7 linked regions of the Homo sapiens genome follow. The protein of the gene in region 4 interacts with the protein of the main gene of each other region in a pairwise test. Each region holds a gene or a part of one and is shown on either strand. Other genes may lie near its edges. The genes, in order: UBE2E2, MAGEA2B, UBE2W, TRIM31, UBE2K, ZSCAN1 and UBE2D4.

Region 1 (3,500 bases), on a different chromosome or scaffold from region 4:
TGGAGGGATGGTGAGTGGTTATTCCAAGGTACTAGAGTATTCAGTTTCCCTTTCGTGGGGGTGTATTGCTGATCTCTGTTGAAGGAGCTGTTTGAAAGTCAGAGAGCCCTGAACTTTAAACTTTGAGACCTGTATACTAGACCATGCTAGGGTGGGGAAGAGGGTTCAGTTTGTTTTGCCATCACAACACAATTACCGGGGACTCAGCTGGCTGACCCTTCTGTTTGCCAGACCACAACACAAATGACCTGCTTAGAGGTGACCTGGAAAATGGGGGGTGGGGTTAGGATGGATGAGAAAGGTGGGGAATAGAGAAAATATGACATTTAGGTGAAAGAAGGAAGTCGATGTAGGTGGGAAGGAGATGTTCAGGTACAGATTGTAGTTCCACGCAGATGAGGAAGATCTAATTCAGTCCTCAGTGTCTGATTGGGTTTTTACAGGGCCTCTTCAGTTTGTCAGAAAAGGGGAAGGATTGGTTGGCCAGGTCTGTGGGGAATAGGGTTCTGCTGGGCCTGTGCTTTATTCTATGATTGCTAGTTAGCAAAGTCACCTGTTGTGGTGAGGCTCTGCCTTTTCCTCTAACTGGGAGCACCACTATAAAATACCTTAAAATCATATTTCTTGGGTGATATGTCAAAGACCAAATTCTGCTTATGAAAGATGTACTGCTTTATGTGTGAACATGAGTTTTTCAAGTACGTGGGTCATCTTTATTTTACTACAGTATATAGAGAAAGTACGGATTATTCAAACCTAATGATAGATTTCACGAGGGAAAAATATAGAAGATATTTTTCTGCACTGTATGTAGGAGATAAAACCTAGTTTAGAGATAATGTATGTGCAGAGCGCAGCGCAGTGCCTGATTGGCAGTAAATAGAAAGTGGTTGTATTGCATTGGTGAAAATAGGAAGTCTCTTTTGAGTTGCTTCCTGGCTGAAAGAATCCCTCCATTGGCAAATTGTTGTGAATCTGTGATTTTCAAATTGTGGTTCATGATCTTCCTCTAGAAAGGTCTTCAGTTGGTTTTCGGGTGACAGTGTATGAAATGATGTAATTATGTACTATTTATTTTAAATATAAAAATGCGGCTTCACTACTAATTTTTTAATTTAAAAAACCTTATTTTCCCCTCTCTCTTCCTCCAATTCAGCTGATAGTGAAGTTGTTGGTTCTTTGCCATTTCTGCTGAACTTAGGAAAAAAATTGGGAATTATGAGCACAGAGGACCCCACATCTTTTAAGTTCACTGCCATGTCCACAGTGCCTAGCAGAGTACAGTCACAGTATTTATTTACTGGCTGCCTTGGAACCCTGAGCTTCTTATAGGGATCGGATTTTCCATGGATATTAGGATCTTAGTACTAGTGTGTTCAGAAGATTAAAAGTTAGAGGTAGTTTCAAAATAAATTTTATTTCACACTTTTTTGTTGACGATCATTTTTATTCAGATGAGAAGCCTTTCCCAAATAGTGTCATTTTATGAGATAAAGAGTAGCATTGAAGAGCTTGAACTCTAGAGACAGCATCTACGTTTGAATCTAGGTTCTAGCATTTAGTAGCTATAGCTCTGTGGTCTTTTTTTTTTTTTTTTTGAGGCAGAGTCTTGCTCTGTCACCCAGGCTGGAGTGCAGTGGTATGATCTCCAACTCCTGGGCTCATTCAGTCCTCCAGCCTCAGCCTCCCAAGTAGCTGGGATTACAGGGTTGTGTCACCACACCAGGTTAAATTTTTAATGTATTTTTTGTAGGGATGGGAGTCTCACTATGTTGCTCAGGCTGGTCTTGAACTCATGGTTGCAAGCGATCCTCCTGCCTTGGTCTCTCAAAGTGTTGGAATTACAGGCATGAACCACTGTGCCTAGCCTCTGTGATCTTGATGTATAATTTAACAGCTCAAAGCCTCGATTTCTTCTTTCGTAGAAGGAAGATGATAACGGTACGCTGTTCAGAAGGTTCTTGTGAGGACTAAATGTGATAAAGCATTTATTTGGCACATAGTAAGCTCTCAAAACTGATGCCGTCACTGATAGACTTTATGTCAGTTAAAATCTACGGTCATATTTTTCAAGTCTGTTTGGTACAAACTTTGGAAAAATGAGGTATATGTTAACCTTGGAGGCCTTAATGCTATTGTTAAACTAGAAATACTCAGATGCCGTAATTAAATACATTTTGTAGTGACTTAGGAAAAGTGCTTGCACGTAGGTGCTCAGTTATTATATGAAATGTACTATAATTGTAGAATTAATAATTGTAATGCAGTAATTATAGAATTAATAAGCTGGTATAGAACTATGATTTGAAAAATCTCATTTGTGATATTATAGAATAGTGGTATATAATACAGAAAACATTTAAGTGGGTATTTAAACAGCAGTAGAAATTAATTTCTGTCTCAGAGTTAGGAGGAAAGATTACAGTTACATCTTAGATGCATTTTTGCTTTTCTTTGGCAAGAGTTTCTTAAAAAATTGTCATGCTCTTATCACAGCCTGTTCTCTTGATATGTCTATATCACTCTTGTTATATTTGCAAGTCTGTTGTTGGACTATATCTGCAGTGACAGATTTAGATTATTTTGATTAAATTGACTAGTCAGTTCAATAAAACGTCTATTTTGAGATCTTCTTTGAATTTATTCTGCTGCTTTTACGGGTTGATACATCTGTAAATGTGAATTTTATATCATATTTATTCTAAATTAACTGTTTAGAGTGGACATGGTGATTTTATTTTTGGACATTCAATATGATACTGTTCGAGGTATGGTTTTTGGTTTCAGACTAAATTTTTGTTAGGTTGAAAGATTGATTCCACTGTATTCCAGTTTGAACTTTTATCATATGGGCTCGTCTAAGTTTGTTTTCCACATGAGAATGAAATAGTACTTTTGTAGATAATCTTTTGTAATTACTGTATTTTCTTCATTCTAAAAGTACATTTTAAAACTTTTTAATGTTTCTGAAATTGGGACACATCTTAAAATTTATGTGCACAATTATTGATGGTGTGTCTTAAAATCAATGATCTTTCAGAATCATAGATATATAGTATATACCACCATTTAGAATGAAACTCTAGACTTCTTATTTGCAATGGCAATGTGTTTTCTAAAGATTGCTTTGACATTTAAAAAATTTTAATAATTAGTTGCATGATGCTTTTTTGAGAATAAGTTCATTTTGGAAGGTTTTCGCTAGGTGATTCAATTGATTAGAGTAGGGGTTTTTAGGTTGACTGAGGAATGTAGTCTGTAAGGGAATATAGAAAGTTGTCTAGATGAGATGAAGGGTTTTAAAAAAATTCCTGCTAAGAAATTACTTTGCGAATCTGCGTATCCACACATTCATGTTCTACTTGGCTCTCAGTAAATTTTTGAATTTTCTTTAACTCAAGAAATGTATGTGTGTGTTTTAAACATGTTAGTACATATACACTGCTTCATTTTTCTGAACCCTTAGCCCAATATATTGATGTTAAAATGAGTGTTTCGTA
Region 2 (4,008 bases), on a different chromosome or scaffold from region 4:
AGCTGGTACTTGTGTGTGACACTTGCAGTGTCTGTTGGAGGGGGTTAGCGGCAGAGATGTTGGGGAGGTTTGTAGCCTGCCTAGACGGCAGATGAAAGAATGGGTAGAATAAAAGTTTTGAATTTTCCACTTCACTTCATTGCACAATCTGAGGCAGCCCCTGAAAACACGATGCCAAGAGCCCTAGGTAATAGCAGTGTCCACCAGGAAAATTGGGTTTGTTAAGGCAGCATGGCTCCAGAGTTCTGCTAATAACAACCTGAAACCAACAGAGTGGGAGAGGAATTATGTTTTTTAAAAAAATTCTTTCAACAGAACACAAAGACTGGAATGGAAGTAGACTAGGATATCAGAGTGAATCATGCATACTAAGGGTAGGTGTTAGTTCATAGAAATAAATATATATATTGCTACCTACATATATACTTAGAAGATATGTAAACCGTATTTCTTCAATTCAGAGAATAAATCATTTAGGACCAAAGGTTTGCCAAGTGTAGCTCTGGCTGGGGAGGAGCCCCCGTGGGAAGGTGTGCGTCTTCTCCCAGAGGTCACTATCATCGCGGGAGCTCCTGCCCTGCAGGGAGCACCTGGCCTGGCACCCGCAGCCATTCTCTACAAGGGGTGCAGATGCGCAGATGCGCAGATGCTCAGAGGTGACAGAAACAGAGCATCTCCCACCCATTCCTTCATCAAACAGCCAGGAGTGAGGAAGAGGACCCTCCTGAGTGAGGACTGAGGATCCACCCTCACCCACATAGTGGGACCACAGAATCCAGCTCAGCCCCTCTTGTCAGCCCTGGTACACACTGGCAATGATCTCACCCCGAGCACACCCCTCCCCCCAATGCCACTTCGGGCCGACTCAGAGTCAGAGACTTGGTCTGAGGGGAGCAAACACAATCGGCAGAGGATGGCGGTCCAGGCTCAGTCTGGCATCCAAGTCAGGACCTTGAGGGATGACCAAAGGCCCCTCCCACCCCCAACTCCCCCGACCCCACCAGGATCTACAGCCTCAGGATCCCCGTCCCAATCCCTACCCCTACACCAACACCATCTTCATGCTTACCCCCACCCCCCCATCCAGATCCCCATCCGGGCAGAATCCGGTTCCACCCTTGCCGTGAACCCAGGGAAGTCACGGGCCCGGATGTGACGCCACTGACTTGCGCATTGGAGGTCAGAGGACAGCGAGATTCTCGCCCTGAGCAACGGCCTGACGTCGGCGGAGGGAAGCAGGCGCAGGCTCCGTGAGGAGGCAAGGTAAGACGCCGAGGGAGGACTGAGGCGGGCCTCACCCCAGACAGAGGGCCCCCAATAATCCAGCGCTGCCTCTGCTGCCGGGCCTGGACCACCCTGCAGGGGAAGACTTCTCAGGCTGAGTCGCCACCACCTCACCCCGCCACCCCCCGCCGCTTTAACCGCAGGGAACTCTGGCGTAAGAGCTTTGTGTGACCAGGGCAGGGCTGGTTAGAAGTGCTCAGGGCCCAGACTCAGCCAGGAATCAAGGTCAGGACCCCAAGAGGGGACTGAGGGCAACCCACCCCCTACCCTCACTACCAATCCCATCCCCCAACACCAACCCCACCCCCATCCCTCAAACACCAACCCCACCCCCAAACCCCATTCCCATCTCCTCCCCCACCACCATCCTGGCAGAATCCGGGCTTTGCCCCTGCAATCAACCCACGGAAGCTCCGGGAATGGCGGCCAAGCACGCGGATCCTGACGTTCACATGTACGGCTAAGGGAGGGAAGGGGTTGGGTCTCGTGAGTATGGCCTTTGGGATGCAGAGGAAGGGCCCAGGCCCTCCTGGAAGACAGTGGAGTCCTTAGGGGACCCAGCATGCCAGGACAGGGGGCCCACTGTACCCCTGTCTCAAACTGAGCCACCTTTTCATTCAGCCGCGGGAATCCTAGGGATGCAGACCCACTTCAGCAGGGGGTTGGGGCCCAGCCCTGCGAGGAGTCAAGGGGAGGAAGAAGAGGGAGGACTGAGGGGACCTTGGAGTCCAGATCAGTGGCAACCTTGGGCTGGGGGATCCTGGGCACAGTGGCCGAATGTGCCCCGTGCTCATTGCACCTTCAGGGTGACAGAGAGTTGAGGGCTGTGGTCTGAGGGCTGGGACTTCAGGTCAGCAGAGGGAGGAATCCCAGGATCTGCCGGACCCAAGGTGTGCCCCCTTCATGAGGACTGGGGATACCCCCGGCCCAGAAAGAAGGGATGCCACAGAGTCTGGCCGTCCCTTGTTCTTAGCTCTGGGGGAACCTGATCAGGGATGGCCCTAAGTGACAATCTCATTTGTACCACAGGCAGGAGGTTGGGGAACCCTCAGGGAGATAAGGTGTTGGTGTAAAGAGGAGCTGTCTGCTCATTTCAGGGGGTTGGGGGTTGAGAAAGGGCAGTCCCTGGCAGGAGTAAAGATGAGTAACCCACAGGAGGCCATCATAACGTTCACCCTAGAACCAAAGGGGTCAGCCCTGGACAACGCACGTGGGGGTAACAGGATGTGGCCCCTCCTCACTTCTGTTTCCAGATCTCAGGGAGTTGATGACCTTGTTTTCAGAAGGTGACTCAGGTCAACACAGGGGCCCCCATCTGGTCGACAGATGCAGTGGTTCTAGGATCTGCCAAGCATCCAGGTGGAGAGCCTGAGGTAGGATTGAGGGTACTCCTGGGCCAGAATGCAGACAGGGGGCCCCATAGAAATCTGCCCTGCCCCTGCGGTTACTTCAGAGACCCTGGGCAGGGCTGTCAGCTGAAGTCCCTCCATTATCCTGGGATCTTTGATGTCAGGGAAGGGGAGGCCTTGGTCTGAAGGGGCTGGAGTCAGGTCAGTAGAGGGAGGGTCTCAGGCCCTGCCAGGAGTGGACGTGAGGACCAAGCGGACTCGTCACCCAGGACACCTGGACTCCAATGAATTTGGACATCTCTCGTTGTCCTTCGCGGGAGGACCTGGTCACGTATGGCCAGATGTGGGTCCCCTCATCTCCTTCTGTACCATATCAGGGATGTGAGTTCTTGACATGAGAGATTCTCAAGCCAGCAAAAGGGTGGGATTAGGCCCTACAAGGAGAAAGGTGAGGGCCCTGAGTGAGCACAGAGGGGACCCTCCACCCAAGTAGAGTGGGGACCTCACGGAGTCTGGCCAACCCTGCTGAGACTTCTGGGAATCCGTGGCTGTGCTTGCAGTCTGCACACTGAAGGCCCGTGCATTCCTCTCCCAGGAATCAGGAGCTCCAGGAACCAGGCAGTGAGGCCTTGGTCTGAGTCAGTGTCCTCAGGTCACAGAGCAGAGGGGACGCAGACAGTGCCAACACTGAAGGTTTGCCTGGAATGCACACCAAGGGCCCCACCCGCCCAGAACAAATGGGACTCCAGAGGGCCTGGCCTCACCCTCCCTATTCTCAGTCCTGCAGCCTGAGCATGTGCTGGCCGGCTGTACCCTGAGGTGCCCTCCCACTTCCTCCTTCAGGTTCTGAGGGGGACAGGCTGACAAGTAGGACCCGAGGCACTGGAGGAGCATTGAAGGAGAAGATCTGTAAGTAAGCCTTTGTCAGAGCCTCCAAGGTTCAGTTCAGTTCTCACCTAAGGCCTCACACACGCTCCTTCTCTCCCCAGGCCTGTGGGTCTTCATTGCCCAGCTCCTGCCCGCACTCCTGCCTGCTGCCCTGACCAGAGTCATCATGCCTCTTGAGCAGAGGAGTCAGCACTGCAAGCCTGAAGAAGGCCTTGAGGCCCGAGGAGAGGCCCTGGGCCTGGTGGGTGCGCAGGCTCCTGCTACTGAGGAGCAGCAGACCGCTTCTTCCTCTTCTACTCTAGTGGAAGTTACCCTGGGGGAGGTGCCTGCTGCCGACTCACCGAGTCCTCCCCACAGTCCTCAGGGAGCCTCCAGCTTCTCGACTACCATCAACTACACTCTTTGGAGACAATCCGATGAGGGCTCCAGCAACCAAGAAGAGGAGGGGCCAAGAATGTTTCCCGACCTGGAGTCCGAGTTCCAAGCA
Region 3 (3,500 bases), on a different chromosome or scaffold from region 4:
CTTACTATTGTAGAACTGCTTAATAGACTGACCTAAAATAGAATTAAACTAATGCAGAATTAGCTATTTAGGAATGCTTTTTGAAGTGTTAAGTAATGGACAAATATTTACGGTAGTCACTGTGTGCACATTTAAGGGATAGAGGGAAAGTATTTTTTCCTGCCTTAATGAAGCAGGAAATCTAAAGCAGAAAGTAATATCAGATTATCCTTCAAGGCTGGCCACCGCGCCTGGCCTTCAAAGATAATCTTCATTATCAAGGAGAGTTTTTAAGGTGGGATGATCCCAGCGTGGGACAAAAATTAGCTGGGTGTGGTAGCACATTCCTGTGGTCCCAGCTACTTGGGGGGCTGAGGTGGGAGGATCACCTGAGCTCAGGGAGTTCGAGGCTACAGTGAGCCAGGATTGTGCCACTCTACTCCAGCATGGGTGACAGAGTGAGACCCTGTCTCAAAAAATTTATATAAAAATAAAAAATAAAGTGCCGCTGCACTCCAGCGTGGGTGACAGAGTGAGACCCTGTCTCAAAAAGTATATATAAAAATAAAAAATAAAGGGATGATCTGGCATCTCTCTGAAAATATAGTTCTCCTTAGTATTTACCTAAATTAAGCATTTGTTAGATGAATTTTATTCCATCTTTATATTATTGCTGTCTGCTTCATTATGAGTAGTATCTGCAAAATACTTGTTCATGTTTGTCAGGTATTAAAGTGTCCTCATTTGAAAGCCTTTATTTGTGAATGTAGTTCTTGGATCACCAAAAAACAGCGCATGCTTTTGAGTTGTTTTATTCTAAGAAAATACTCTACTTTCATTTAGCTGCTTTTGTAAAACTTCATTAGAGATAAAGAACACAGGCTCTGTAATGAAAAGACCCAAATTCAGGTCCTGTTTCACTACTTTTTAAAAAGCTATATTGCACAGAAATCATTATGGAGTGTAGTGGGTAGACAAAAACAGATTAGCAGATAGATAAACATATAAAACTGCATTTTGTATTTATCTTACCCAAACTTGTTTTCTGTAGTACTCCCCATGTTGGTATATAGGCAACTTCATTCCATTTGCTCAGCCAGAAACCTTGGGTTCATTCCACCCTACAGTCAAACCATTAGCAAATTTCTATCTGCTCTGCTTTCAAAATATATCCAGAATTCAACTGATTTTCTGAATTCCTGATGTAAATACAGATGACATCCTCATTTCTTGCCTGGATTATATTAGCAGTGTCATACTGGTTTTCCTACTTCTGCCCTCATCCGTTTACTTATCTCTTTAGATTCCCAATAGATTCTTTCTAAACAAAAGTCATGTCATTTCATTCATAATCCTACTATGACTTCCCTCTCTTCCTCAGAATATAATCCAAAATCCATGTTATAGCCTAGGAGGTCTTAACCTCTCCCAGGTACTCATGTCTCTGTAGCCTTATTGTCCTCCTTGCTACTCCTGCTTGTTGTTTTCTCTATTTGGAATGCTCTTCTCACACATCTGGATGATCTGGATGGCTTCCTTTTTTTTTTTTTTTTTTTCTTTTCACTCATAGCTTTGTTCAAATATTTTTTTTTTAAGAGAGCCCTTCCTGACTACCCAATATAAAATAGCTCTCCCATCCCAGCGCTAATAATTTCCTTTACCTTGATAAATTCTTCATACCTTTGGCTATGTATTAATTAGCTTATTTTCTATTTTCTTGGATGTAACCTAGTGCCTGACATGTAGGAGAGTTCAGTAAATGTCGAATAAATGAATAAGTGAGCACAGCTTTTGGAATCAGATAACCTTGGGTTTGAATTCTAGTGTTGTTGTTTAATAGCTGTGTAACCTCCCACCTCCAAATATAAAATAGGGATGATAAAAACAGGTTATTTCATTTCCTGGATCTTTGGAATTGGTGAATTATCTTTTAATGCTATGTTTCCCATTTTAAGCTAGCTCTACTAGATGCTTTTGTCTTTTTTTTTTTTCTGATTTCTAGTCCCTGCACTAGCTATCAATGGAAAAAATAGATTTCCTTTATGACCATGTGTTACATGAGGTCTTTCTTTGTATTTTCAGACCACAGGAAGGAGGGTGGAAGTATGGTTTCCAGTAAGTGTGTGTTTTTTTGCCAATCCTCTTCAAAACTTGAGAATTAGTCAAATAAAATTGTGAGCTATTAAAGTCCATTTTGACATCCTTTTAATGCACAATTTTTTCTTCTAATTGAAATATAATCCACATATAAAACTTACCCTTTTAAAGTATACAGTTCAGTGGTTTTTAATCTGTTCAGAACCATCACTGCTGTTTGCAGAACATTTTCATCACCCCAGAAAGAAACTCCTTATCCATTAGCAGTCACTCCCTATTTCCCCCTTTCCCCAGTGTCTGGAAACCACTCATCTATTTTTTGTCTCTGGATTGGTCTATTCTGGGTATTTTGTGAGAGTGGAATTATATTATATATGACCTTTTGTGCCTGGCTTCTTTCACTTAGCTGTTTGTTTGAGACAGGTGAGACAGGGTCTCATTTTGTCACCCAGGCTGGAGTGCAGTGGCACAATAGGCTCACTGCAACCTCTGCCTCCTGGGTTCAAGTGATCCTCCTGCCTCAGCCTCCGTAATAGCTGGTACTACAGGCATGCACCACCATACCCAGCTAATTTTTGTAGTTTTTTTTTTCCCTGAGACAAGAGTCTTGCTCAGTCTCCCAGACTGGAGTGCAGTGGCACCATCTCGGCTCATTGCAACCTCCGTCTCCCAGGTTCAAGCAATTCTTCTGCTTCAGCCTCCCGAGTAGCTGGGACTGCAGGCGTGCGCCACCACACCCAGCTAATTTTTGTATTTTTAGTAGAGACGGGGTTTCACCATGTTGGCCAATCTGGTCTCTTACTTCTGACCTCAAGAGATCCACCTGTCTTGGCCTCTTAAAGTGCTGGGATTACAGGTGTGAGCCACTGTGCCCAGCTAATTTTTGTATTTTTGTAGAGACGGGGTTTAACCATGTTGGCCAGGCTGGTCTTGAACTCCTAGACCTTGTGATCCGCCCGCCTCGGCCTCACAAAGTGCTGGGATTACAGGCATGAGCCACTGTGCCCGGCCTTAAAAAAAGCTTTTATATAGACAGATTCACTGTGTTGCCGAGGCTGATCTTGAAACTCCCAGTCTCAGCACCCCTCCTGCCTAGGCTTCCCAAAGTGTTGCGATGACTGGCCTGAGCCACCATGCCCAGTTCATAATGTTTCTGAGGTTCATCCATGTTGTAGCTTGTATGAATACTTATTCCTTTTCGTAGCCAAGTAATGGCCCATTTTTTGGTTGTACTGCAGTTTATCCATTCACCAGTTATTTAAATATCAGATATTTGTGTTTCCTGTTTTCATTCATCAATGGATTAATTGACAGTTTGGATTGTTTCCCCTTTTTAGTATGAATAATGCTGTGAACATGTATGTACAAGTTTTTATGTAGGCTTGTGTTTTAATTTGTTTTTGTTAATATACCTTGCATGTAGG
Region 4 (4,024 bases):
ATTATCATTATTTTCTAAATCATCATGCCAGTCAAACAAAACCTGTCAAAAGTTAAATTCTGCTTCTAGGGGCCAGCAGTTTAGGAGTGTAAGTAAAACAATTTACAGATGTTAGACTGTTTTAATTTAACCCTAAAACAAACAAAAAGAAAGGTCTGGAGGTATAACATTTCTGAAAGTCTTTGGTTTACAGCAGTTGCTATAAGGGGAGCCACATAATTTATAGTCCAAACTGGACATTTCTGAAAGTGAAAGGAGGTGCTATTAATAATTACACCAGGACAAAGTGAAACCCAGGATGGTTCCAGGCAAAGCAGAGTGTATGATCACTCTGGCTATTATTATAATAATCATCCACAAGCCCTGTTTGACCTAAGATTAAGATCAGACAAAAATTAATGGTGTACTTCTTGCTGGGGACAGACGGCTGATAATGGAGAGTGAGGAGGTGAGGGTGGAAGCTATACCAAGAGAAGGGGTAGGGAGGAAGCACCCTTTTCCTTAAGACAAGAGGCAAGGAGGGAAGGTTAGGACATGAATGTACAGAAGGGAATGTATGTAACACTGGTTGATATATTCCTAGTCATAACAAAAGCCATAGAAGGCAAGTCAGGGATCAGAGAAGCACCAAGAAGGAAGAAGAAGAACATATAGACAGAATTGGCAAAGCAAAGAATGGGCACGGAGACACCAGCATACTGGAGACATACAGAGAAAAAATCAACAGAGGACAGACTACTACAGGTGTTGTGGGGAGACAGAAGATCACCAGGGGCAAGAGCAAAGTGCAAAAACAAAGAACAACTCTTTAGAAAGGAAGTTCCTTGCCTATCCTACTGAGCTAGGGAGTGGTTGGTTGACCCTGTGACTGGAAATTCCCCAAGGTAGGTGATGATAACCTCCACATTTTCACAAAATTCTGTGAGGAGCCAAAGCACCTGAGGTAGAGAATTGCCCTTCCCCTACTTTCCAGATGCTCTACCAAGGCTTGAACTTTGCATACAAGATGCCCAAAGCATTGCAGTGAACTGGCTGTGACCTTTCAGTAGGCATCACCACCCACCCCTCCACTCCCTACTCAGAGCTGATTGGGAAATCCCCCATAAGTGGTGTTTGGTGCCCCGGTCATTCTGATCTTAGTCAACCACCATACAAACATACCTTTAGTCCAAAGTTCAGGACAACTTATTTCACTTTATAAGCAGCCTATTACACATTCAAAGTATCCATTTGTTCTCAAGAGGTAGCAAGGTAGGACTGCCCATCTGTTTTCCTCTCTTTATAATATTTTCTAGATCCTAAATTTTACGCTTTTCTATCATTTCTTTATTTTTTTCTCCCTCTTCTTTTCCTCTCTCTCTGCTCTTCTAACTAATTGGCAGAATCTCTGACCTCCACTTTCTCTGACTCCCTTCTCCCTTCCTAGAAACAGTATCCACAGTGGACTCCGGGGCTCCTACAGACTTGGCACAGCTTCCTACAGTCTTGAAACAGCCCTGTTGTTCTGTCATGGCCAGTGGGCAGTTTGTGAACAAACTGCAAGAGGAAGTGATCTGCCCCATCTGCCTGGACATTCTGCAGAAACCTGTCACCATCGACTGTGGGCACAATTTCTGCCTCAAATGCATCACTCAGATTGGGGAAACATCATGTGGATTTTTCAAATGTCCCCTCTGCAAAACTTCCGTAAGGAAGAACGCAATCAGGTTCAACTCGCTGTTGCGGAATCTGGTGGAGAAAATCCAAGCTCTACAAGCCTCTGAGGTGCAGTCCAAAAGGAAAGAGGCTACATGCCCGAGGCACCAGGAGATGTTCCACTATTTCTGCGAGGATGATGGGAAGTTCCTCTGTTTTGTGTGTCGTGAATCCAAGGACCACAAATCCCATAATGTCAGCTTGATCGAAGAAGCTGCCCAGAATTATCAGGTAGGCATTTGAGGTTTCTTCCCTGTTCCCCCATCAGCCCAGGAGTTCAGTGAGGCCCTGGAAACTGCTACCTTCCCACTGAGGGTTTGCACCCCATTGCCCCCACCCCTTGGGCTTGAGTGGGCAGCTCGCAGTCAGGCACAGTGGGTTCAAAGAGCTGAGTCTGGGGAACTGCTGACTCTCTAAATCAAGGTGCAATGGAGAATGGAAAGGATGTGAAAATTTGACTCAGAAGGTTTGGGCTCAAGCCCAGTCTTGTGAGTTTACTGTACAACCTGCAAGGAATCACTTTACCTCTCTGAGCCTCAGGTACCTCACCTTTCAAATGGCAAAAACAAAACAACTCTCTTAAAGTTGTTGGTAGGACAGATGAAGGGAAGTTTGTAGTTCTTTGATAATTCCAAAGCACCATCCATAGTCCTAGTTAGTCATAAATAACTATGTTCTGGTCATTTAGGTCACTTAGGCTCCAGATTTCTCCCTTCTCAGCAACCCCTTTCCCCGCCAGCTTGAGAAAGGCGAGTCCTTAATAATTACACAAGGACTCACCTGGAGAGTGTCACCAGCTCTCCTAAGAGACCAGGAGGATTTTATGAGGCCAGAAATCTCCAGGCACAGCCTGTCCAAACGGCCCTCTTTCCGCAGGGGCAGATTCAAGAGCAGATCCAAGTCTTGCAGCAAAAGGAGAAGGAGACAGTACAAGTGAAGGCACAAGGTGTACACAGGGTCGATGTCTTCACGGTAAGAAAAACTCCATCCCACGATCTCTGGAAGCAGAAACATCTCTGCCAAAGCTCCTGGAATCCCCTATTACACTGACCCCTCAGAAAAAGATCCAGTGAGCCATGTCCTCTCCTCGGCGCCTCAGCACCTGACCGGCCAGGCGGCATCACCTCCCGCGTCGGCCTCGCTATTACAGCGGGCTGACTGCTCAGTCTCCACCGGCAGACAAGGTGGGGCACGGAAAACCCGCGCTGGTCTTAGAATCGCAAGTACAGGTTTTTAAGGCCGAGCTGCGCCCTCAACGGATTCCCCAATTAGAAAATGAAGACATTGGCCGGGCGCGGTGGCTCACGCCAGTAATCACAGCACTCTGGGAGGCTGAGGATCGCTTGAGCCCAGGAGTTTGAGACCAGCCTGGGCAACATAGCGAGACTCTCCTCTTAATTAAAAAAAAAAAGAAAGAAAACTAGCCGGGCGTGGTAGCACACGCCTGTAGTCCCAGCTACTAGAGAGGCTGGGAGGTGAAAGTATTGTTTGAGCCTGGGAGGATGAGGCTGCAGTGAGCCGTGATCGTGCACTGCACTCCAGCCTGAGTGACAGAGTGAGAGACTGTCTCAAAAAAAAAAAAAAAAAAAGACAGAAGGAAAATGAAGACATTGTGACCCCACTTACCTATTTTCCTGTGTGCGTGAAAGGAATAAAATCTATATGAAAGATTATAAACTGAAAAGCCTTCTGGAATTGTATTAGACAGTTCCTTGAAGGCAAGTGGTAAACCATAAATTAATAATTTCGCTTAAAGCTGAGCACGTAGTAGGTGCTTTTAGAAGTTTGTTCTCCTCTCCTTTCCTTTCTTCCAGGTCTGCCCTGGCACATTGCTCTGGTTGGGAATTCCACACAAACTTAATAAAATTAATGGCTGAATAAAGTGGGCTAGAAGGACCTTCGAGGCCATCCTCTCACCCTCTGCCTGTCCCTGTTTCTTAGGACCAGGTAGAACATGAGAAGCAAAGGATCCTCACAGAATTTGAACTCCTGCATCAAGTCCTAGAGGAGGAGAAGAATTTCCTGCTATCACGGATTTACTGGCTGGGTCATGAGGGAACGGAAGCGGGGAAACACTATGTTGCCTCCACTGAGCCACAGTTGAACGATCTCAAGAAGCTCGTTGATTCCCTGAAGACCAAGCAGAACATGCCACCCAGGCAGCTGCTGGAGGTGAGTCCCTTGGGGGCAGAATTGCAGAGAGGTAGCAGCCCATCCCTAGTCTCAGGTCAGAGCATGGACCACTGGCAGAATACCTGAGATTGCCCCAACCATCCTACCTCTAGCCCAGTGCTGTCCAATAGCAATATGTGAGCCGCATGTATTAGAA
Region 5 (3,500 bases), on a different chromosome or scaffold from region 4:
TTTCTTTTTATTAATTAATATTTATTTTCTTTGTTTTAGATGTTTGTTTTTAAATATGAGTGTGAATTTTAAGTAGTTTTAAATAATATTCCAAAGTTGTTAGGCATGGAATATTGATGTAAAGTACATTTTATAATTAGTTATTTTATGAGTAGGATTACATAAGTAAATTATTAATTGTGAGGATATAAACCCATAATCAATGTTTTATTCATAAGTTTTATTATTTACTATTAGTTATTGCTGCTGTTAATAACTAGCTGCCATTTGTAGAATGGCTAGTTGTTCTTAGTATCATTTGTTTTTACGTTATTGCTAATTCTTAAGCACAGTTCTTTAGATGTCCTATTTCCTAGATGAGAAAATAGAGATTTAGAGAAGTTAAATTATTTGTCTGCAATCACAGAGCCTGGGATTTGGATCTAGGTCTGCTTGTGTTCATATTGTCCCACGCTGTCATGACTTGCTAAGGATAGGCATGCTTTTAATTAATTTAAAAAATCGAGCCTGGTTTGTATTACTGGTTAAAGGATTTAAACACAGTTTAATTTGCTAGTTTAAACTCATTGAAATAAGTGTTACCTATAATTAACTTTAAGATGTACTTGAATTTCTTTCTTTCATGTTTTTTTTTTTTTCTTTTAAGAAGGAATCTCGCTGTCTCGCCCAGACTGGAGTGCAGTGGTGCGATCTCAGCTCACCACAACCTCTGCCTCCCAGGTTCTAGAGATTCTGCCGCCTTAGCCTCCTGAGTAGCTGGGATTACAGGTGCCCGCCACCACGCCCAGCTAATTTTTGTATTTTTAGTAGAGACGACGTTTCACCATGTTGGCCAGGCTGGTCTTGAACTCCTAACTTCAAGTGATCCGCCTGCCTCAACCTCCCAAAGTGCTGGGGTTACAGGCATGAGCCACCACACCCAGCCAGATTTACTTGAATTTCAATATACCAAATATTTTAAAATTTGAAACTTAATGAAATAAAACACCCTTAAATCAGTGCACTCTCTTGTTGGTCTTATGCTATATGGCACCTGTTGGTTTTTCATGTTGTAATTGCACTTTGGTAACATTTTCTTTTCTTTTCTTTTCTTTTCTTTTTTTTTTTTTTTTTTTTTTTTTTTTTTTTTTTTTTTTGAGACGGAGTTTTGCTTTTGTTGCCCAGGCTGGAGTGCAATGGCGCGATCTTGGCTCACCCCAACCTCCGCCTCCTGGATTCAAGCAATTCTCCTGCCTCGGCCTCCTGAGTAGCTGGGATTATAGGCATGCACCACCATGGCTGGCTAATTTTGTATTTTAAGTAGAGGCGAGGTTTCTCCATGTTGGTCAGGCTGGTCTTGAACTCCCGACCTCAGGTGATCCACCCGCCTCGACTTCCCAAATTGCTGGGATTACAGGAGTGAGCTACTGCACCTGGCCAACATTTTCTAGTCTCATAGGGCGTGTTTAAATCTATGGCATAAACAAATTGGTTTCGTGAAAATTACTATATAGTACATTAAGTTTTCCCTCATCATTTAAATAGATTTTTGTGTCTATTTTCCTTTAAAATTTTAATGTACTTGATCTAGCTTGATCTAGATTATTCTGTAATAGAAGTAGTTGTAAATCTCTAAAAGTAAGTCTTTTGATTTCTGTAGACCATGGATTTTTTAACCTTGGCACTACTGACATTTTGGGCAGATAGTTCTTTGTTGAGTGGCTCTCCTGTGCATTGTGGGATGTTTAGCAACATCCCTGACCTCTACCAGTATATGCAGGTAGCACTGCAGAGCCCCAGCGCATGTCCCCACTATCTCTTCTTGCTGGATGCATCAACTAAAAATGTCCCCAGACTGCCATATGTTGAGAACTATGTAGACAAAACTTTTTTTTTTGATACAGAGTCTTGCTCAGTCACCCAGGCTGGAGTGCAGTGGCACGATCTCAGCTCACTGCAACCTCCACCTCCTGGTTGCAAGCCATTCTGCCTCAGCCTCCCGAGTAGCTTGGATTACAGGCGCCTACTACCATGCCCGGTTAATGTTTTTATTTTTAGTAGAGACGGGGGTTTCACCATGTTGGCCAGGCTGGCCTGACAAAACTCTTTAAAAGAGTGTTTATGGCCAGGTGGGGTGGCTTATGCCTGTAATCTAGCATTTTAGGAGGCTGAGACTCGATTGAGGCCAGGAGTTCAAGACCAGCCTGGGCAACATAGTGAGAGTTTGTTACTACTAACATTTAAAAAAAATCAGCCAGGCCTGGTGGTATGTGCCTATAGTGGCAGCTACTCGGGAGGCCGAGGCTGGAGGATGCTTGAGCCCATGAGGTCAAGGCTGCAGTGAATTGTGATCATGTGACCGCACTTTAGCCTGGGCATCAGCGAGACCCTGTCTCATAAATGAAAAAAGAAAATGATTCCTGGCTATTTATTAACTATATAAGAAGAACACAGCCAGGCGTGGTGGCTCACGCCTGTAATCCCAGCACTTTGGGAGGCCTAGGCAGGTGGATCACGAGGTCAGGAGATCGAGACCATCCTGGCCAACATGATGAAACCCCGTCTCTACTAAAAATACAAAAATTAGCCGGGCATGGTGGTGAGTGCCTGTAGTCCCAGCTACTTGGGAGGCTGAGGCAGGAGAATTGCTTGAACCGGGGAGGTGGAGGTTGCAGTGAGCGAGATGGCACCACTGCACTGCAGCCTGGCGACAGAGCGAGACTCCATCTCAAAAAAAAAAAAAAAAAAAGAATACTTTGAGACTTAACTGTATCAGATGTGTAAGATAATTTATCTAAAGAATAAATGGACACAGACAGTAAAGACAAAAAATATATACTGGCTTTGAATGTTTTATTTTTAAAACTTTTAAGTTTGTTTCCCGTTTTTAGTGTTTTTCTTTTAAAATTTCTCGCTTTTGATTTTAATAAAAAGGTAAAATTTTCTACCAAAAATGAATGTAACGAGAATTTGAACAGTTGTTTCTAAGACTAGAGGCAGGCGTGGTGGCTCACATCGGTAATTGCAGCACTTGGGGAGGCTGAGGCAGGAGAATCGTTTGAGTCTGGGAGGTCGAGGCTGCAGTGAGCGGTGATTGTGCCACTGCACTCCAGCCTGGGTGACAGAGCAACACACTGTCTCCAAATAGTAAAAAAGTGGTTTTTAAAGTTTTTATTTTTATTTTATTTTTTCAAAAGTGTGTTTGAAAGTTATGTAAGTTACAGTTTTATGTAATATTTAAATAGTATTTCTTATGGTTTCTGGAATGGGTTGAGCAAGGAAAGCCTATAGATTGGGTTAAAAAAAATCAAAGTCTGTGCAGGTAATATGTTTGGGGTGAATTCCTTGTATACAGTGTTACAAAGACTTTGAGCTCTGTCCATTGGGCGTAGGTTTAGACACATCTGGGCTCCCTAGCTTCTTCCCTTTTTATTTATTTATTTTTGAAACAGAGTCTCACTGTCACCAAAGCTAGAATGCAGTGGCGTGATCACAGTTCACTGCAGCCTTGAACTCCCCAG
Region 6 (4,130 bases), on a different chromosome or scaffold from region 4:
CTCTCCTGCTTCTTCTTCAGCAATGAGCAGCTTCAGCTATCCTGAGCTCAGTCCCAGAGCTGAGGACCCTCCTTGCATCATGATCTCACCCCCACCTGATTTCAGATACAAAACGAGTATCTGTGGAACCCTACTATTCTGGCACATGGTTACATTGTAGACATTAATATTAAAACTTATTTATATGAAATGTTCTTATGTAAGGTTTCGTTAAAGTATATGAAATATAGGACACATTGATACTAATTCCTTGTTTTTCTTTTTCTTTCTTTCTTTTTTTTTTTTTTTTTTTTTTTTTGAGACAGAGTCTCACTCTGTTGCCCAGGCAAGGCTGGAGTGCGTTGGCAGGTCTCGGCTCACTGCAACCTCGGCTTCCCCAGTTCCAGCGATTCTCCTACCTCAGCCTCCCGAGTAGCTGGGATTACAGGCACGCACCACCATGCCTGGCTAATTTTTGTATTTTTAGTAGAGACGGGGTTTCACCATGTTGGCCAGGCTGGTCTGAAACACCCGACCTCAGGTGATCCGCCTGCCTCGGCCTCCCGAGTTCTGGGATTACAGGCGTGAGCTATCGCGCCCGGCCTCCTTGTTTTTCTTGAGTTTACATATAACTGAGGTTTCTTTTTTCTTTCTTTTTTTTGGGGGTGGGGGGACGGAGTCTCGCTCTGTCACCCACGCTGGAAAACTGGAGTGCAATGGAGCAATCTCGGCTCACTGCAACCTCCGCCTCCCCGGTTCCAGTGATTCTCCTGTCTCAGCCTCCTGAGAAACTGGGATTACAGGCATGCGCCACCACGCCCAGGTAATTTTTGTATTTTTAGTAGAGACGGGGGTTTCACCATATTGGTCAGGCTGGTCTCGAACTCATGACCTCGTGATCCGCCTGCCTTGGCCTCCCAAAGTGCTGGGATTACAGGCGTGTCACCGCGCCCGGCCGACGTCCTGTATTTTTATTTGCTAAGAGTGGCGATCCTAGTCTGGGACATACTTGTACTAAACATATTTATATTAAAAACAATGTTTTAACATACTACTCTTGGACACTGTATAAAACGGTTGCGTGTCTGGAATGCCGTCGTTTTGCCCCGCGGCCCCATCGTACATGCGCATCCCCGCAGCCGCCACCGTCTCCACTTTCCGCAGCAGCGTCCCTGACGCTGCGCGACCCGTTGCCAAGGCGACTGGAACCGCGGCCCGAGGTAACTGGAGGGCACGGCGGGGGCGGGGCGCTCATCCCAGGCGGCTTCTGATTGGCCTCGGCCGCCTCGTGCGTCACAGCCCCGCCCCTGCCCGGGAGTCCCGCAGCGGTGACTTGTCACCGACGCCCGGCGTGATCCAGCGGACCAATGGCGGCCGCCCGCGGCGCGCAGGGTGCGGGGATGGGGTCCGCCCGCGGCGTTGGGCGCGCTCGCCAGCCCAGGGGTCGCCATGACCGAGTGGCCCAGGCCCGAGCGAAGCCCGCGCGCGGTGAGTCCGCCGCGGCCCATCCGTCCCTCCGCCCGCCAGAGCGTCCATCGGGACGCCCACCCGGGAGGGTCTCGGCGCCGCGTCGGCGGGAGCTGGCCCGGGATCGCGGTCCAGGGGCGCGCGTCGGGGGAGGCGGGCCCGGGCCCGGGAGGGGGCGGGCCGGGCCGGGGTTCCAGAGCCCATCGGGAGTCCTGAGGTCGCCGTAGGGGAGGGAAGGGGAAGGCTAGAGGCCACGCGGGGCGGGGACTGGGGGGGCTGGGGCCGCCCCTTCCGCAGGGACCCCGACCCCTGTTGGCATCCGCCTGTCCGTTTGAGGCCGAAGCCCCTCTACGTACCCCCATTGCCCGCCCAAACACCGCTCGGCCGCGTCCAAGTTCTCCCTTCCACACCTGATCAGCATCCCGGGACCTATCTCCCTCCTGAACAGCCGCCCCCGGACCCATCTCCCTCCCTACCCGGCCCCTTGGGCCCATCCCCCACTGGAACAGCAGCCCCCGACCCGTCTCTCTCCCTACAAGCTCCCCCTCCCCGCCCCAGGCCCATCTCCCTCCTGAACAGCCGCCCCCGACCCATCCCCCACCCAATCACCCCACCATCCTCCCCCCAACCAGCCGTCCACAGCCGTCGTCGCTGCCCCTCCCCTGTATTCCCAGTGCGCTGCCCTTGCACACTTCCCCAGCTCGTTTATTATGGAACTCCTCCGTGTGGCATCCTAAGCTCCCAACGCCCTCCCCACTGTAAGCCCCCTTCTCAAAGCCAGAACCATTCACTGACTGGCGCAGTGAACACGTCTTCTATGTCACTAAGCATCCGGCATCAGCGGCAAAGCCCTTCTGCCCATCCCCGCAATAGAATTTGGGGCTCGGGCTGCAGATCTCAGTGCCCATGCCAGGTGAACCTGGCCCTTCCACAGGCACTGAGCCCTCCAAGTGACACTCTCTCACACACACACATCCCCAACATTAATCAGAGACCCCTACCAAAGTAGACTTCTAGGACCCCAGGGCCACCACAGCATTGCCCATGGGGGGGCCCAGATCCTCCTCACCAGCCATGTAGACCTCAGTCCCCTTCACATCATCCCAGGCCCTCTTCATCTTCCAGAAACAGCCACCCATCAGTCCAGGACTCTCATCAGCTCAGGTACCCCCACATTGGCCTAGGTGTTCCACATCAGCCCCCATATAGACCCCAGACACACCCATGGACCTCTGGTGCCTTCTGCTAAGACCTCCTCTTTACCCTCATCCCTGATAAACTTAGCATCTCCTCCCACAGACCTCAGCCCAGGACCCTGGAGGATGCTGAGGGGCTACAGCCCCCCTCCCTAGAGTCTCCAGGGTGAGCTGCCATGAGCACCTGAGAGAGTATAAGGTCTGAGGCCCCAGGGCAAAGGGATTTCTTGAACCTGTGGAGCTTCAAAATAGGCCCTTTTTTCTTATTCAAAACTACATATATAAAAGTGTGAATACAACATAAGAGAGCATTTTTGCCTGTGGCCTTGGCAGGGAAGACCAAGCTGGTAGTTTCCCAATCAGGGTGCAGGTGGCCGGGTACGCTGACTCGAAGATGGCTGGCTGGGCACAGTCCCCGTGAGTTGCCTTTCTGCCACCCTGCACCTCTCCTTTCTCCTGGATTGTAAAACCAGATGCACGAGAACTGCAGAGTGTATGAAAAATGCAGCAGAGGATGAAGAGGGAAAAATCCCATGGAATCCCTCCTTTTCACTTGTCATAAGCATTTCCCATATGGTCAAAAATCCTTCCTAAAGATGTCTTGTTTTGTTTTGTTTTTCCATGTTGATGAAGGTCACATGGGAGCCCGACACCATTTGGAGGAGATTCAGAGAAGTATGAACAGCACAAAGCACTTGGCCGCCCCCCATGGGCGTCTTCCCAGGACTCCCTTTCTATGACACTCACGCATCATCCTGCATCCCACGTTCCCTGTGCCTCATGTCATCTGTACATCATGTGTCTACTCCCCGTGGTCATGTCATAGTGTTGTGTACTGGGCACGGTTGAATACTCCCATCACATGATGGGGGAGGTAGTTGATCCCACCACGTTCAACTGTTGGGCACTTTTGTAGTGAATCTTGGTGCCTGAATCTCGCATCTTGCACGCAGTCTACCAAGTGTTCTTGATATATAAATGGCCACAGTGCTTTCCAGAAAGGTCGTGCCAATTTATATTCTCACCAGCGGATCAGTCCAGAGTACAATTGTTAAAGACAAACAAACGAAACCTCCCTGCTTATTTTTATTTTTACAACTTTTAATGTTTTCTTCAGTTATATGTTCACCATAGTCGGCTTGGAAAATGTACAAAAGGTAACTTCTTTTTTTTCTTTTCTTTTTTTTTTTTTTTTTTGAGACAGAGTCTTACTCTGTCGCTCAGGCTGGAGTGCAGTGGCACAGTCTCAGCTCACTGCAATCTCCGCCTCCTGGGTTCAAGCATTTCTCCTGTCTCAGCCTCCCGAGTAGCTGGGATTACAGGTGCGTGCCACCACGCCCAACTCATTTTTGGTTATTTATTTTTTTTGGGATGGAATCTCACGCTGTCACTCAGGCTGGAGTACAGTGGTGCGATCTTGGCTTACTGCAACCTCTGTTTCCTGGGTTGGAGCAATTCTCCTGCCTCAGCCTCCCACGTAGCTGGGAT
Region 7 (3,500 bases), on a different chromosome or scaffold from region 4:
TGTAATAGTAATTACTATATAAACTTAATCTACTTAATCCTTTACAATTAATAAAATATTTATATATTTAATGATTTGGTAATAAATTCCCATGGTTCAAAATGTGCACAGGATATACAGGGAAAAGTCTCCCACCCAAGACTGTCCCTAGCCATCCAGTTCCCCTCCTGGGTGGGCAACCAGTGTCGAAGTATTCTTCTAGAAATATATATATTCTACTTATTCCTCTCCCTTTTTATAATACTAATTGTAGCATTCTCTATACCACTATTATCTTGATATTTACTGGGTGCTCTTGCTTACATTATATACATTAAAAACTTACATGCAAAATTTGTAGCCACACAATAGTACCGGCAAGTTGGCAGGCAAGTATGATTACAACTTAACAGGTAATTACACTGAGGCCCAAAGAGGTGAAAGTGATTTCCTCAGTGACGGAGCTTGGATTCAGACCTGAGTCTTCTAACCCTGAGGTGAGCACAGGAATTCGATGTGTGAGTGGACTAGTTTCTTTCAAGTCACACCATTCTTCCTTGAAATGCCAGTTAGTATTCGAAACTCCTGGGTGCTGGTTGGAGTCTAACAATAGGGATCCACACGTGGCCTTTCAGGGATCATTAAGTGCTGGTGTAACTGTTCATCACACCTCTAAAGGGGGAACATGGATTCTGCATATAGGCAGTGCAAAAGCATAGAGGTGTGGGAAAACCTTGTGAGGTGGAGGGGAATTGGTCTGTACTGCTGGCTTTTCCTGCCCCTGGCTGTTCATATAACCTCTTCAGGATTTGCCTTAGCAGTTCTGTCATAGGGCTAATTTATCCATGCAGTGTAGCAATGAATATAAACAATTCTCCTGCACAGTGATAGTGGAGGTGCTGAGGGGCACATAGCAGAGAGGTAAGCTAAAAGGAACTGTTCCACAGAGATTTCTGTAGCTCTTGCATTTCTGAGCCTGTCCTTGGTCCCCTTGTATGACCTCACTTGTTCCCCAAGTTAAATTCTCTTTTGGCCACTCCTAATGCTGCTTCCTGAGTGCTTGCCAAGTATAATTCATTTTACTTATGAGGAAATGGGTTCAGATATATTAGATACTAATCGAGAATTGGCCAGTGGTATACTGGTAGATGTTTAAAGATCAACCCTCGGGGAGAAAACATGGCCCTGATTTGTAGCATTTGCTGGCTTCTGTGATGTTAATACTTCCATCTTGGCTGATTAAATTTGAAGTGAAGGGGATAAATGCAGGATGGCCAGAGATGTGGTTACTGAAATGATCAGCATGTCCAGAGACATATGGTGAAATCAGGAGAGTTTGTGTAGATAGGACAGTGTTTGGCTTAGTTCAGGGTTGGTGTCCCATAAAGGGAATCTAGTCGTGGTATAATCCCTGATCCCCACTGGTGCAGTGTTAAACTTTGGCTCACGTGCCAGTCTCCACATTCAGAGCCCTAGGACTTGCCACATAACCAGTGGTGACTAGGGTGATTGGGATGGTGGTTGGGGAGGTAAAGTAGAGAGATTAGCACTTCCTTGGTGCTGCTTCCATGCATTAATTCATTAGCCTAGCAGTAAAACCTGGCACCTATCCTTCTCCCAGAACTCTCTCCTGGGCTGCTTTTCTTCCATATCTTCAGCACCTGGGGGCCTGGGGATGTCCTCTACCTGAGGAGGTAGGAGGCTAGGCTTGGGGGTAAGGCAGAGCTACATGTGACTGACTTCTTGCCCTGCCCTCTTCCAGCTCTGTACCTTGAGTAGGTAACTTCATCACTTTACAATTCAATTTCCTAATGTATAAAATGGAAATGATCATACCTACTTCTCTGGTATCTTTGTAGCAGGGAGTAGAGTCCTATGACCCACCATGTCTCTAACCCCCTCCTGAGGCCTAGGAGCCTCCTCCCACCAGGAGAATTCCTTCCAGCTACCAAGATTGGTATGTAGAGGCAGCATCCCCAGCATACAGCAGCTCTGACCCACTCTCTCATGTTCTAGGAATTAACCGACTTGCAGAGGGATCCTCCTGCCCAGTGTTCTGCAGGACCTGTCGGTGATGACTGTAAGTATTTTGGGGGGCTTCAAGTTGTAGGAGCATTTTAATTAAGACCCCCCAACTTAGGCCAGGTGCGGTGGCTCACGCCTGTAATCCCAACACTTTGGGAAGCCAAGGTGGGTGGATCACCTGAGGTCAGGAGTTTGAAACTAGCCTGGCTAACATGGCGAAACCCCGTCTCTACTAAAAGTACAAAAATTAGCCGGGCATGCTGGCACATGCCTGTAATCCCAGCTACTTGGGAGGCTGAGGCAGGAGAATCGCTTGAACCCAGGAGGCAGAGGTTGCAGTGAGCCAAGATCGTGCCACTGCACTCCAGCCTGGGCAACAGACTCTGTCTGAAAAACAAACAAACACAAACAAAACCAAACAACCAAATTATCAGCCAAGCAGTATTTAAGAAAACCAATCAATGCTTTTCCCTTCATTTTCTCTTGAATGGCTTTTCATTTGAGGTCTAGGCCATGAGTTCACAGCAGCTTGGCTGGTCAGCTTATACTCAAAGTAGAACCTGCACTGCCTCTCATGTCCCATAGTCACCGCTTCCCTCTTCTGGCGCATGAGAAAGCCAGCTTGGCCTGAGGAGTCACATCAGCTGCTGGAAAGTGCCCTTGGCCAAGTCAAACTTGGGTGCTGGTGTAAATATTGTTGGAGTTGGTCTAGAGGACCTGGTGCTGCTGCAGCTCCTGGGAGCAGAGCAGGACAGTGGAGGAGGGGCAGGGCAGGGTAGGGCAGTGGCCACTTGCCTCTGCCAAGGGGAAGGGCAGTCCCTATTATTTTCTCCCACTTCCACTCTTCCCTGGCGGAGACTGAAGCAGCAGCTCTGGGCAGCTTCTTGGGAGAGAGAGGGAGAAGCAGCACTGCCTGTTCCAGGCCTCTGCTGTCCCTCACAGGTGCTGGCCGAGGCTGAGCTGCCCAGCACTAGGGTTTCCAGGTCTGTCCTCTGCCCACTCACCTTGCCTCCACTTTGTGGGCTTCTTGGGCTCTGGGACACCAATCCTTCCCTGTGAGGCTTCAGTAACTGCAGCCATAGGAAAATAGGTGGGGAGGGGAGATACTATGTGTTCAAGGAGAGTGGTGTCAGAGGTACATATACCAAAGAATCAAAAACAGAGTGAGACAGAATGTGTATGCCAATGTTCACGGCACCATTACTCATGATTTTCAGAAGCTGGTAACAACCCAAGTGCCCATCAGTGGATGACAGATAAACAAAATATGGTTCTGATACACATTACAACATGAAAACATCCCAAGTGAAATAAGCCGGAAAGAAAAGAATGAATATATGATTCCACTTACATGAAATATCTAGACTAGGCAAATTCATAGAGACAGACGGTAGATGAGAGATTACCTGAGGCTGATGGGGGGTGGAAATAGGAGAAATATTGTTTCATGGATACAGAATTTGTTGGGGGTGATGGAAAGCTTTAGAAATGGATGG

Evidence for each region.
Region 1: the proteins of TRIM31 (region 4) and UBE2E2 interact in a two-hybrid assay, tested with the Homo sapiens proteins (one study listed by BioGRID).
Region 2: the proteins of TRIM31 (region 4) and MAGEA2B interact in a two-hybrid assay, tested with the Homo sapiens proteins (one large-scale study listed by BioGRID).
Region 3: the proteins of TRIM31 (region 4) and UBE2W interact in a two-hybrid assay, tested with the Homo sapiens proteins (one large-scale study listed by BioGRID and IntAct).
Region 5: the proteins of TRIM31 (region 4) and UBE2K interact in binary tests that used the Homo sapiens proteins (3 or more experiments, as listed by UniProt).
Region 6: the proteins of TRIM31 (region 4) and ZSCAN1 interact in a two-hybrid assay, tested with the Homo sapiens proteins (one large-scale study listed by BioGRID and IntAct).
Region 7: the proteins of TRIM31 (region 4) and UBE2D4 interact in a two-hybrid assay, tested with the Homo sapiens proteins (one large-scale study listed by BioGRID and IntAct).

What each region holds. Positions count from the first base shown.
Region 1 is NC_000003.12:23,209,827-23,213,326, forward strand, and holds part of UBE2E2 (ubiquitin-conjugating enzyme E2 E2), read left to right. Parts: intron 1-3,500.
Region 2 is NC_000023.11:152,713,420-152,717,427, forward strand, and holds the start of MAGEA2B (melanoma-associated antigen 2), read left to right. Parts: upstream 1-1,208; 5' UTR 1,209-1,263; intron 1,264-1,427; exon of another isoform or gene 1,428-1,509; intron 1,510-1,659; 5' UTR 1,660-1,738; intron 1,739-2,537; 5' UTR 2,538-2,657; intron 2,658-3,228; exon of another isoform or gene 3,229-3,326; intron 3,327-3,476; 5' UTR 3,477-3,542; intron 3,543-3,622; 5' UTR 3,623-3,687; coding exon 3,688-4,008. UniProt on the Homo sapiens protein: Reduces p53/TP53 transactivation function through recruitment of HDAC3 to p53/TP53 transcription sites. Also represses p73/TP73 activity. Proposed to enhance ubiquitin ligase activity of RING-type zinc finger-containing E3 ubiquitin-protein ligases.
Region 3 is NC_000008.11:73,868,863-73,872,362, reverse strand, and holds part of UBE2W (ubiquitin-conjugating enzyme E2 W), read left to right. Parts: intron 1-2,061; coding exon of another isoform or gene 2,062-2,094; intron 2,095-3,500. UniProt on the Homo sapiens protein: Accepts ubiquitin from the E1 complex and catalyzes its covalent attachment to other proteins.
Region 4 is NC_000006.12:30,110,291-30,114,314, reverse strand, and holds the start of TRIM31 (E3 ubiquitin-protein ligase TRIM31), read left to right. Parts: upstream 1-1,224; 5' UTR 1,225-1,251; intron 1,252-1,426; 5' UTR 1,427-1,509; coding exon 1,510-1,926; intron 1,927-2,475; exon of another isoform or gene 2,476-2,571; coding exon 2,572-2,667; intron 2,668-3,636; coding exon 3,637-3,867; intron 3,868-4,024.
Region 5 is NC_000004.12:39,701,136-39,704,635, forward strand, and holds part of UBE2K (ubiquitin-conjugating enzyme E2 K), read left to right. Parts: intron 1-3,500. UniProt on the Homo sapiens protein: Accepts ubiquitin from the E1 complex and catalyzes its covalent attachment to other proteins. In vitro, in the presence or in the absence of BRCA1-BARD1 E3 ubiquitin-protein ligase complex, catalyzes the synthesis of 'Lys-48'-linked polyubiquitin chains.
Region 6 is NC_000019.10:58,032,695-58,036,824, forward strand, and holds the start of ZSCAN1 (zinc finger and SCAN domain-containing protein 1), read left to right. Parts: upstream 1-1,330; 5' UTR 1,331-1,467; intron 1,468-2,048; exon of another isoform or gene 2,049-3,275; 5' UTR 3,276-3,317; exon of another isoform or gene 3,318-3,788; coding exon of another isoform or gene 3,789-3,799; intron 3,800-4,130. UniProt on the Homo sapiens protein: May be involved in transcriptional regulation.
Region 7 is NC_000007.14:43,936,436-43,939,935, forward strand, and holds part of UBE2D4 (ubiquitin-conjugating enzyme E2 D4), read left to right. Parts: intron 1-1,995; coding exon 1,996-2,059; intron 2,060-3,500. UniProt on the Homo sapiens protein: Accepts ubiquitin from the E1 complex and catalyzes its covalent attachment to other proteins. In vitro able to promote polyubiquitination using all 7 ubiquitin Lys residues, but may prefer 'Lys-11' and 'Lys-48'-linked polyubiquitination.